Linked DNA regions of Homo sapiens. The protein of the gene in region 1 purifies or fractionates together with the protein of each later gene. This does not show direct contact. Each region holds a gene or a part of one and is shown on either strand. Other genes may lie near its edges.

Region 1 (4,805 bases):
ATCTTGGCATGGTCTCAAGAAGAGATATTCCAAATTTTAGAACATCCCAATAGAACGGTTGGATCTGGAACCCCAACTTCCTGCACATGAGGAGCCAGCTGAGCACCAGAATGTGATTTTGGGATCCCGATAAAAGTCACCCTGGGCCAGGCGCGGTGGCTCACACCTATAAACCCAACACTTTGGGAGGCTGAGGTGGGCAGATCACTTGAAGTCAGGAGTTTGAGATGAGCCTGGCCAACATGGTGAAACCCCGTCTGTACTAAAAATACAAAAAATAGCCAGGCATGGTGGCATGTGCCTGTAGTCCCAGCTACTGGAGAGGCTGAAGCAGGAGAATCACTTGAACCCAGGAGGTGGAGGTTGCAGTGAGCAGAGATCACGCCACTGCACTCCAGCCTGGGTGACAGACCAAGATTCCATCTCAAAAAAACAAAAGTCACCCTGACCTGTGAGCCACACCTGGCAGTATCATTGTTGGACATGTGGCCATATGAGGCAGAGGGCCAGTCTTTCTGCCATCATGGTTTTGGAAAGGGGTCATGAATAGTCTGCTACTAATCATGGATGGTGAGGATGGCTGACCATGACTGTGACCTCATGTCATCTCATGGGATCAGCTTGACAGCCCCATTAGTTGGATGCTATTGTCCCTGTAGTTTACAGGAAGAAGCTGAGCCCAGGAGGCGGAGTCAGTTGGCCAAGGTTGCAGAGCTTGTGAGTAGGGACTGGGCTGCCAGCCCAGAAGTTTGGCCCTGAAGCCTGCCCTGTAAGCCTCCTCCTGTGTGCATGTTCCCAACATGGGCTTCTTAGGTGACTAATATGCCATCTTAGATGACTCCTGCTTTCGTTCATTTAATATGTTTTCCCAGAGTGCCTCACCTGGGTCAGTATTGAATGGGGCTCTGGGACCCAAGAATGAATAAAAGACATGGTTCCCCATCCGTGACTGATTAAGGGTGGTTTTGTTCTTTTTGAGACAGTGTCTCATTCTGTCGCCCAGGCTGAAGTGCAGTGATGCAATCATAGGTCACTGCAACTTTGAACTCCTGGGCTCAATCGAATCTCCCACCTCAGCCTCCCGAGTAGCTGGAACCACAGGTGCGTGTCACCATGCCTAGCTAATTTAGTAATTTTTTTTTTTTTTTGTAGAGATCGGGTCTTGTTACATTGTTAGGGCTGGGGTTTTGTTCTTTTTGATAGTGATGATTCATATATATAATTCTATGTAATCATATATTTACCCTTTTGCAAGATTATTTTTATTAACATATGTTAACACATGGGCAAAACCCAAATCCTTGGTCCATCACAAGTCCTAAATTTTATTCTGGAAATGTAGCCTTGGCTTGCATAGAAGCATGTGATTTTCCTTTAGCCTACCAGAGCCCTTGGTGGTTTCTCTGTGGGTAAGAGGGGCTGGTTGAGTGTGCACTCCAAGCAAACCAGAAGGTTTGTCCTGATGTCAGAGATGCTGGGACAGAGGGGGCTGAGTCTAGGCGAGAGGGCGAGGGACCCCCAGGCCATGAGTCTCATTCCTGGTGCAGGATTTTTCTTTTCTTGGCTGCTGCTCTGTGCCTTGTTCTGTCTTCTTGCTTCTTGGTGTGGTTACGGGAGCAGGGCAGACATAGGAGGTGGGACTGCTCAAATCCATCTCTTCTTGCAGATCCAGCTTCACACTTTGGTTTAGAGACTCCTGGGGTTTAGAGAGGAATGGGGCCTGGGGCCCACTCATCCAAATTGTCACGTGGAGGAGGAACAGATCCCTTTGTAGGGGTTAAGAGCTCAAACTGTGGGCTCGAATGCCTGGGCTGAAATCTGGATCTGCCACTTAGGAGATGTCACCTCTGAGACCTTCAGTGTCCCCATCTAGAGAGTGGGGGAATAGATAGCACTCTATGAGGAAAGATGTTTTCAGGATGACACAAGAAAGTACACAGGGCGTGGTTAGCACAGCGCCTACAATCTAGTAAACACTCAACGTCTTGAAGATGGTGGCCACAATGATAACAACACAACCTCCAGCCCTGCAGAAGCCCTTCCTGGGCCAAAACCAGTCCTCCTGCCATATCCAATCCTGTGATTGGAGGATGCTGGCTGGTGAGTAGAAAGTCCTTGCTCAAGTTCTGCTGGGGTCCACCTCTTTGGACCTTCTGACTCTGATCTTAGCTCCTGGAGTGCCCCGGAGCAAACCTGTCCACCCTGTCCCCTGCAGGACGGTCTGTTAGCCTCAATTAGCAGAAAGCTTACAGACTCTGGGAAAAGGTGTGCCTGGCTGTCTGCTGTTGCTGATAAGCAGCCTGATAAAGACTCTGTGGTCAAAGGTTGCTGGGCTGGGCTGAGATTCAGTCCCGCCCTTCCAGCCCCTCCTTTCTGCTTTCTATTGCTTCCCTCTCCCCTTGGTAAATCACTGAAAGTTTTCAGTAATGGGGCATGGCGCTCTTTGCGGGCACCCGTCTGGGGCTGTGTCTGTGAAATAGGAGGTAGGGGTGGTGATTGGGGTGATTAGGGTCTCAGTTCAGGAGAACAGGAATGATCTGTTTACCTCTTTGTTAAACACCTATGCTGAGAGCTCTGTGAGGCATCTGTGGCTCTCATGTCCTTGGTACGTCCAGCAGAGTAGATATAATGCCTTGTAATTTGCAGCTGAGGACCCCATGGGGCACCAGTAGCCTCACTTCTGACTTCACCCAGCATTGCCCAGGACCTGAAGTGGGTGTCACCAACTGGGAGTCACCAGGAAGCAATCGAGGAAATCCCACAGACATCTATTTAGAAAACATCATTTCATGATGTGCTTTTGAGACGGGCATGTGAAAGAAGAGGGTGTTGGCCAGATTAAAAGGGACCCTGAGCTTGAGGTTCTGACTGATCATGGTTTCAGGAGGTTTTTCCCCTCACATAACCATTTCTATCTCTTCCTTAGAAATTAGCACACTTTTGGGTACCAGTTTTGAGTTGGAGTGGCATATTTCTTAGAACACTGGACGGCAAGATACTTCTTTAAAATTGGGGAGACTTAGGGCTAAGTTTCGCAGTTTGTTGGAAAGGTCAGTCCTACGAGGACTTTTCTGTTGGGGATGCACAGGTAGAAAGCCCGTTTTCTGCCCCAGAGTCAGCAGGAAGTGTGAGTGGTCCAGGAACAAAAACAGACTTGGTGGAATGCAACTAATCTCCACTTGGGAGACAGAGGGACTTGAGGCTGGAAGGCAGTTTGATTTGTAGCAAGAAAACTTGGTACAAAGAGGTTGTGACCCTGTGTGACCCCGAGGGAGAATTTGGATTTGTGCTAGATGAAAGGGCCATTACAGTGAGGAACTTGGCCTTCAATCTGAAGGCACATGAAAGGCTCTGATGTGTCTGGTCATGTTTGTTCCTGCAAGAATTTAAAACAAAGGAAGCTGGGAGGCAAACAATGCTTCTGCTTTATAATTCCAGTTCCAAACCTCAGAGGGGGAGCTGTAAAGGGTGACCCTGTCTACGGCACCACCCCGCGTTCCAGTGTATTGGAAGTGGATGGTCTCTGTTTTGCATGAGAAAGTGACCTGGTCTCCTTCCTTGTCATGTTTCAGTTGAAACAGAGTTCCTCAAAATTGGAAATGCACACACACATACACACAGACTTTTGCCCACTTTGGAATAGAAATTAATTGCACTCGGAAAATAAATTGCAGAGCATGGCTGAGTACAGACAGCCACATGTGAATGAATTGTTTGTCCGCATAGTTTTGGGGGCTTCGGAATCCTGGCTCACCCACCAAACCTCCCAAGAATAGACAGACAGGATGAGGCATCAGCTCTCTTTCTCATCTGCCCCACCTCAGAGTCTTAGGAGGGCCAAGAGCTTTGGGAGACCTTGGGGACATTCACAGGCTTGGAAGCACTGGCCTCTTCTTCTTTTGTGGCCTCCTCAGGGCAGACTTGGTGGGAGCTCTTAATAAACAGTAACTCAGGAACAGAACAGTCAGGGAGGCCTGGTCCCTGGCCCAGTAATTGAAAAACCAGAAACAGCTTCATTTCATATGCATTGATGACAAAAGTACCGACAGACGCAACCAAAAACATGACTGGCCCGCTGGTGGACAGTTTCGCCCCACAACTTGGGGAGCGCAAATTGCTTTGCCGAGAGTCAGAAGCAACTACATGAGACAGCAGAGGTCCATGTAACTTTTCTGGATTTTTAGGAATCTGATTTCCATGGGTCTCTTGCAGGGCTGAGAATAGACTGGGGTGAGTGAGGCACTCCCTCATGTACAAACTTTCAGGAGGCACCAGAAAGTAGGAAAAAACAAGTAAAATGTAATGCACTATTTTCAGAAAGCCAAAATGAGTGCAAAAAAAAATTCATAATCGACCAAATATTGTTTTTAGTAAAGGCAGGATCCAGCCCTGAGCTTGCTCCACTTACCTCACCTGCCTCACCCTAATCCCAGCCCTGGCATCTTGCTTGAGGATAAAGCCTGTGTCTCTAATAGAGACTCAGTAGTTTGAGGTAAGTGATAAATCTATTGGAGCTATTACTGGAAAGGGGTCCCGATCCAGACCCCAAGAGAGGGTTCTTGCACCTCGAGCAAGAAAGAATTCAAGGCAAGTCCATAGAGTAAAGCGAAAGCAAATGTATTAGAGAAGTAAAGAAACAAAAGAATGGCTGCTCCATAGAGCAGTGGTATGGGCTGCTTGATTGAGTATACTTACAGTTATTTTTCGATCCTATGCTAAACAAGGGGTGGGTTATTCATGAATTCCTGGAACTGAGGTTCCCCCTTCCTAGACCATATAGGGTGACTTCCTGATGTTGCCATGGC
Region 2 (4,805 bases), on another chromosome or scaffold:
GCTTTATTGAGATGTAGTTCATGTACCACACAACTCATCCATTGTAAACATGATTTGATGATTTTTAGTTAAATTATAGAATTGTGCAGTCGTCTGGCCAGGCGCGGTGGCTCACGCCTATAATCCCATCACTTTGGGAGGCCAAGGCGGGCGGATCACAAGGTCAGGAGATGGAGACCATCCTGGCTAACACGGGGAAACCCCGTCTCTACTAAAAATACAAAAAAATTTAGCCGGGCGTGATGGCAGGCGTCTATAGTCCCAGCTACGCGGGAGGCTGAGGCAGGCTGAATTGCTTGAAGCTGAGAGGTGGAGGCTGCAGTGAGCCGAGATTGCGCCACTGCACTCCAGCCTGGGTGACAGAGCGAGACTCCGTCTCAAAAAAAAAGGCTGGGCGCGGTGGTTCACGCCTGTAATCCCAGCACTTTGGGAGGCTGAGGCAGGTGGATCACAAGGTCAGGAGATCAAGACCATCCTGGCTAACACCGTGAAACCCCATCTCTACCAAAAATACAAAAAATTAGCTGGGTGTGGTGGCGGGCACCTGTAGTCCCAGCTACTCAGGAAGCTGAGGCAGGAGAATGGTGTGAACCCAGGAGGCGGAGGTTGCAGTGAGCCGAGACTGCGCCACTGCACTCCAGCCTAGGTGTCAGAGTGAGACTCCGTCTCAAAAAAAAAAAAAAAAAAGAATTGTGGGTGGGTGCGGTGGCTCACGCCTGTAATCCCAGCACTTTGGGAGGCCGAGGCAGGCGGATCACGAGGTCAGGAGATCGAGACCATCCTGGCTAACACGGTGAAACCCCATGTCTACTAAAAATACAAAAAATTAGCCAGGTGTGGTGGCAGGCGCTTGTAGTCCCAGCCACTCGGGAGGCTGAGGCAGGAGAATGGCATGAACCCGGGAGGTGAAGCTTGCAGTGAGCCGAGATCACGCCATTGCACTCCAGCTGGGCGATAGAGTGTGACTCTGTCTCCAAAAAAAAAAAAAAAAAAGGAGGGGACATTGAAGCAACAACAACAAAAAAAAGAATTGTGCAGTCATCACCACAATTGCAGACATTTCCCTTGTAAAAGTTTCCTTCCATCTGTTTGCAGAGTCCCTACCCCAACCCCCACCCTCAGCCCATCAGCGATCTGCTTTCTTTTTTCTTTGAGATGGAGTGTTGCTCTGTCGCCCAGGTTGCAATGCAGTGGCATGATCTCGGCTCAGTGCAACGTCCGCCTCCTGGGTTCAAGCAATTCTCCTGTTTCAGCCTCCTGAGTAGCTTGGATTACAGGTGCGCACCACCACGCCCGGCTAATTTTTAAATTTTTGGTACAGATGAGGTTTCACCATATTGGCCAGTCTGGTCTCGAGCTCCTGACCTCAGGTGATCTGCCTGCCTTGGCCTCCCAAAGTGCTAGGATTACAGGTGTGAGCCACTATGCCCAGCCTTTTCTGTTTTTTTTTGAGACAGTCTCGCTCTGTTGCCCTGGAGTGCAGTGGTGCAATCTTGGCTTACTGCAACCTCTGCCTCCTGGTTTCAAGTGATTCTCCTGCCTCAGCCTCCCAAGTAGCTGGGATTATAGGCACTGGCCACTATGCCAGGCTAATTTTTGTATTTTTAGTAGACACGGGGTTTCACTATGTTGGGAAGGCTGGTTTCGAACTCCCGACCTCAGGTGATCTGCCCACCTCAGCCTCCAAAGTGCTGGGATTACAGGGGTGAGCCACTGCACCTGGCCTGCTTTCTGTTCGTATGTGTGTGTGTGTGTGTGTGTGTGTGTGTGTGTGTGTGTGTGAAAAGTGTCTATTTGAGTCTTTTGTCCAATTTTCAAAAACTGGATTGTTTATCTTACGGAGTTGTAACAAAGAGTTCTTTATGTGTTCTGGATAGGATTCTCCTGTCAGCCATGTGATTTGCAAATATTTTCTCCCAGTCTGGCTTGTCTTTTAATTTTCTTAATGGTGTTTCTTTTGAAGAGCAAAAGTTTTGAATTTTGACGAAGTCTCATTTACTGCTTTTTAAGTGGATACTGCTTTTGGAGTTATGTTTAAGAAATCTTGGGCCCAGGCATGGTGGCTCACGCCTGTAATCCCAGCACTTTGGGAGGCCAAGGTGGGCGGATCATGAGGTAAAGAGATTGAGACCATCCTGGCCAACATGGTGAAACCCCATCTCTACTAAAAATACAAAAATTAGCTGGGCGTGGTGGCACACACCTGTAGTCCCAGCTGCTCAGGAGGCTGAGGCAGGAGAATTGTTTGAACCCGGGAGGCGGGGGTTGCAGTGAGCCTAGATCGCGCCACTGCACTCCAGCCTGGTGAAAGAGCGAGACACCGTCTCAAAAAAAAAAAAAAAATCATACAGGCGGCTGGGTGTGGTGGTTCATGCCTGTCATCTCAGCATTTTGGGAGGCTGAGGTGGGCGGATCACCTGAGGTCAGGAGTTCGAGACCAGCCTGGCCAACAAGGTGAAACCTCGTCTCTACTAAAAATACAAAAATGAGCTGGACGCAATGGCGCACGCCCGTAATCCCAGCTACTCAGGAGGCTGAGTCAGGAGAATTGCTTGAACCTGGGAGGTGGAGTTGGGTTGCAGTGAGCCAAGATCATGCCACTGCACTGCAGCCTGGGCAAACAGTGAGACACCATCTCAAAAAAAAAAAAAAAAAAAAAGCGCAGGTGCAGTGGCTCGCGCCTGTAATCCTAGCACTTTGGGAGACTGAGATGGGTGGATTGCCTGAGCTCAGGAGTTTGAGACCAGCCTGGGCAACATGGTGAAACTCCATGTCTCCTAAAATACAAAAAATTAGTTGGGTGTGGCAGCATGTGCCTGTAGTCCCAGCTAATTGGGAGGCCGAGGCAGAAGAATCGCTGGAACCCGGAGCGCGGCAGAGGTTGCAGTGAGCCGAGATTATGCCACTGCACTCCAGCCTGAGCGACAGAGTGAGACGCCGTCTCAAAAAAAAAAAAACAAATAGAAAGAAAAGAAATCTTTGCCTAGGTCAAGGTCACAAAGATTTTCTCCTATTTTTTTCTAGCATTTTGTTGTTGTTGTTGTTGTTGGTTTTTTTTGAGATGGAGTCTCCCTCTGTCACCCAGGCTGGAGTGTAGTGGCATGATCTTAGCTCACTGCAGCCTCTGCCCGGGTTCCAGCGATTCTTCTACCTCAGCCTACTGAGTAGCTGAGATTACAGGTGCGAGCCACCACGCCCGGCTAATTTTTGGATTTTTTAGTAGAGACGGGGTTTTCACCATATTGGCCAGGCTGATCTCAAACTGACCTTGTGATCTGCCTGCCTTGGCCTCCCAGATTGCTGGGATTACAGGCGTGAGCCGCTGTGCCCGGCCTTTTCTAGAAGTTTTATAGTTTTAGCTCTTACATTTAGGTCTTTGATCCATTTAGAGTTAATTCTTTTTTTTTTTTTTTTTTTTAATTTTGAGATAGGGTCTTACTCTGTCATTCAGGCTAGAGTATAGCGGCATGATGTCACTCTAGCCTTGACTTCCTGGCTCAGGTGATTCTCCCACCTCAGCCTCCCAAGTAGCTGGGTTTTCCCAGCTATGTATGTGTACCACTATGCCCAGCAAAGTTTTTGTATTTTTTTTGTAGAGACAGGGTTTCACCGTGTTGTCCAGGCTGGCCTCAAAGTCCTGGACTCAAGCAATCTGCCCACCTTGGCCTTCCAGAGTGCTGGGATTACAGGTGTGAGCCGCTGTAGCTGACCAAATTAATTTGTTTCACTTATGGCTTGAGATAAAGATCTAAACCCCCCTTTTTTGTGGATGGAATTCAATTATTTTAGTATCATTTGTTGTAGAGACTATCATCTTCCCATCAAATTGCCTTTGCACCTTTGTCAAAAATTAGTTGACCTAAGCCAGGCATTGTGGCTGGATAACAAAGCAAGACCATGTCTCTTAAAAATCAAAACAACAGCGACAAGAACCCCACCAGTTAACCATGAATGTGAGGGTTTATTTTGGGACTCTCCATTCTGTTCCATTGATTTATGTGTGTCCCAGAAGTTCTCAACTGGGGCATTTTTGCCCTCTCAAGGGACATTTGGCCATGTCTGGAGACATTTGTGATTGTCACAGCTGGGGGCATCTGTTGGGTAGAGGCCACAGGACAGTCCCCCACAATTAAGAATAAATCGGCCCAGAATATCCATAGTGCTTAGACTGAGAAATCCTGGTCTGTTCTTAGACCAGCAGCACACTGGCTTGTTTACAGTAGTTTGATAGTAAGTTGTGAAATCAGGTAGCATAAGTTCTCCAACTTTGTTCTCTTTCAAAATTGTTTTGGTTATGCTAAGTTCTTTGCATTTCCATATACATTTTATAATTAGCCTGTCAATTATTTCTACAAAAGCAGCCTGCAATTTTGATAAGTATTACATTGGATATATAAATCTATGTGGTGAGAATTGCTGTCTTTACAGTGCTGACTCTGGGAATCCATGAACATGGTATATCTCTACATTAATTTTGATATTTAGCTTCTCAGTTGTTTTTTTTTTTCAGATAACTTTACCTATTTAAGGCAAGTGATATTTGCCAATCTATTACTGATATATTGCCTTCCCAATCTAGTAGTGATAAAAAATTTCCTTTTTTTTTTTTTTTTTTTTTTTTGAGATGGAGTCTTGCTCTTGTCACCCAGGCTGGAGGGCAATGGCGCAATCTTGACTCACTCCAACCTCTGCCTCGCAGGTTCAAGTGATTCTCTCCTGCCTCAGCCTCCTGTGTTGCTGGGACTACAGGTGCATGCCACCACGCCCAGCTAATTTTTGTATTTTTAGTAGAGATGGGTTTCACC

The links. Proteins that work in one complex are often made in the same cells at the same time.
Region 2: the proteins of EDN3 (region 1) and MGRN1 purify together in Homo sapiens (co-immunoprecipitation; 2 studies listed by BioGRID and IntAct, with this or other methods). This does not show direct contact.

The regions. Positions count from the first base shown.
Region 1 is NC_000020.11:59,306,719-59,311,523, forward strand, and holds part of EDN3 (endothelin-3 isoform 1 preproprotein), read left to right. Parts: intron 1-4,805. UniProt on the Homo sapiens protein: Endothelins are endothelium-derived vasoconstrictor peptides.
Region 2 is NC_000016.10:4,627,411-4,632,215, forward strand, and holds part of MGRN1 (E3 ubiquitin-protein ligase MGRN1), read left to right. Parts: intron 1-4,805. UniProt on the Homo sapiens protein: E3 ubiquitin-protein ligase. Mediates monoubiquitination at multiple sites of TSG101 in the presence of UBE2D1, but not of UBE2G1, nor UBE2H. Plays a role in the regulation of endosome-to-lysosome trafficking.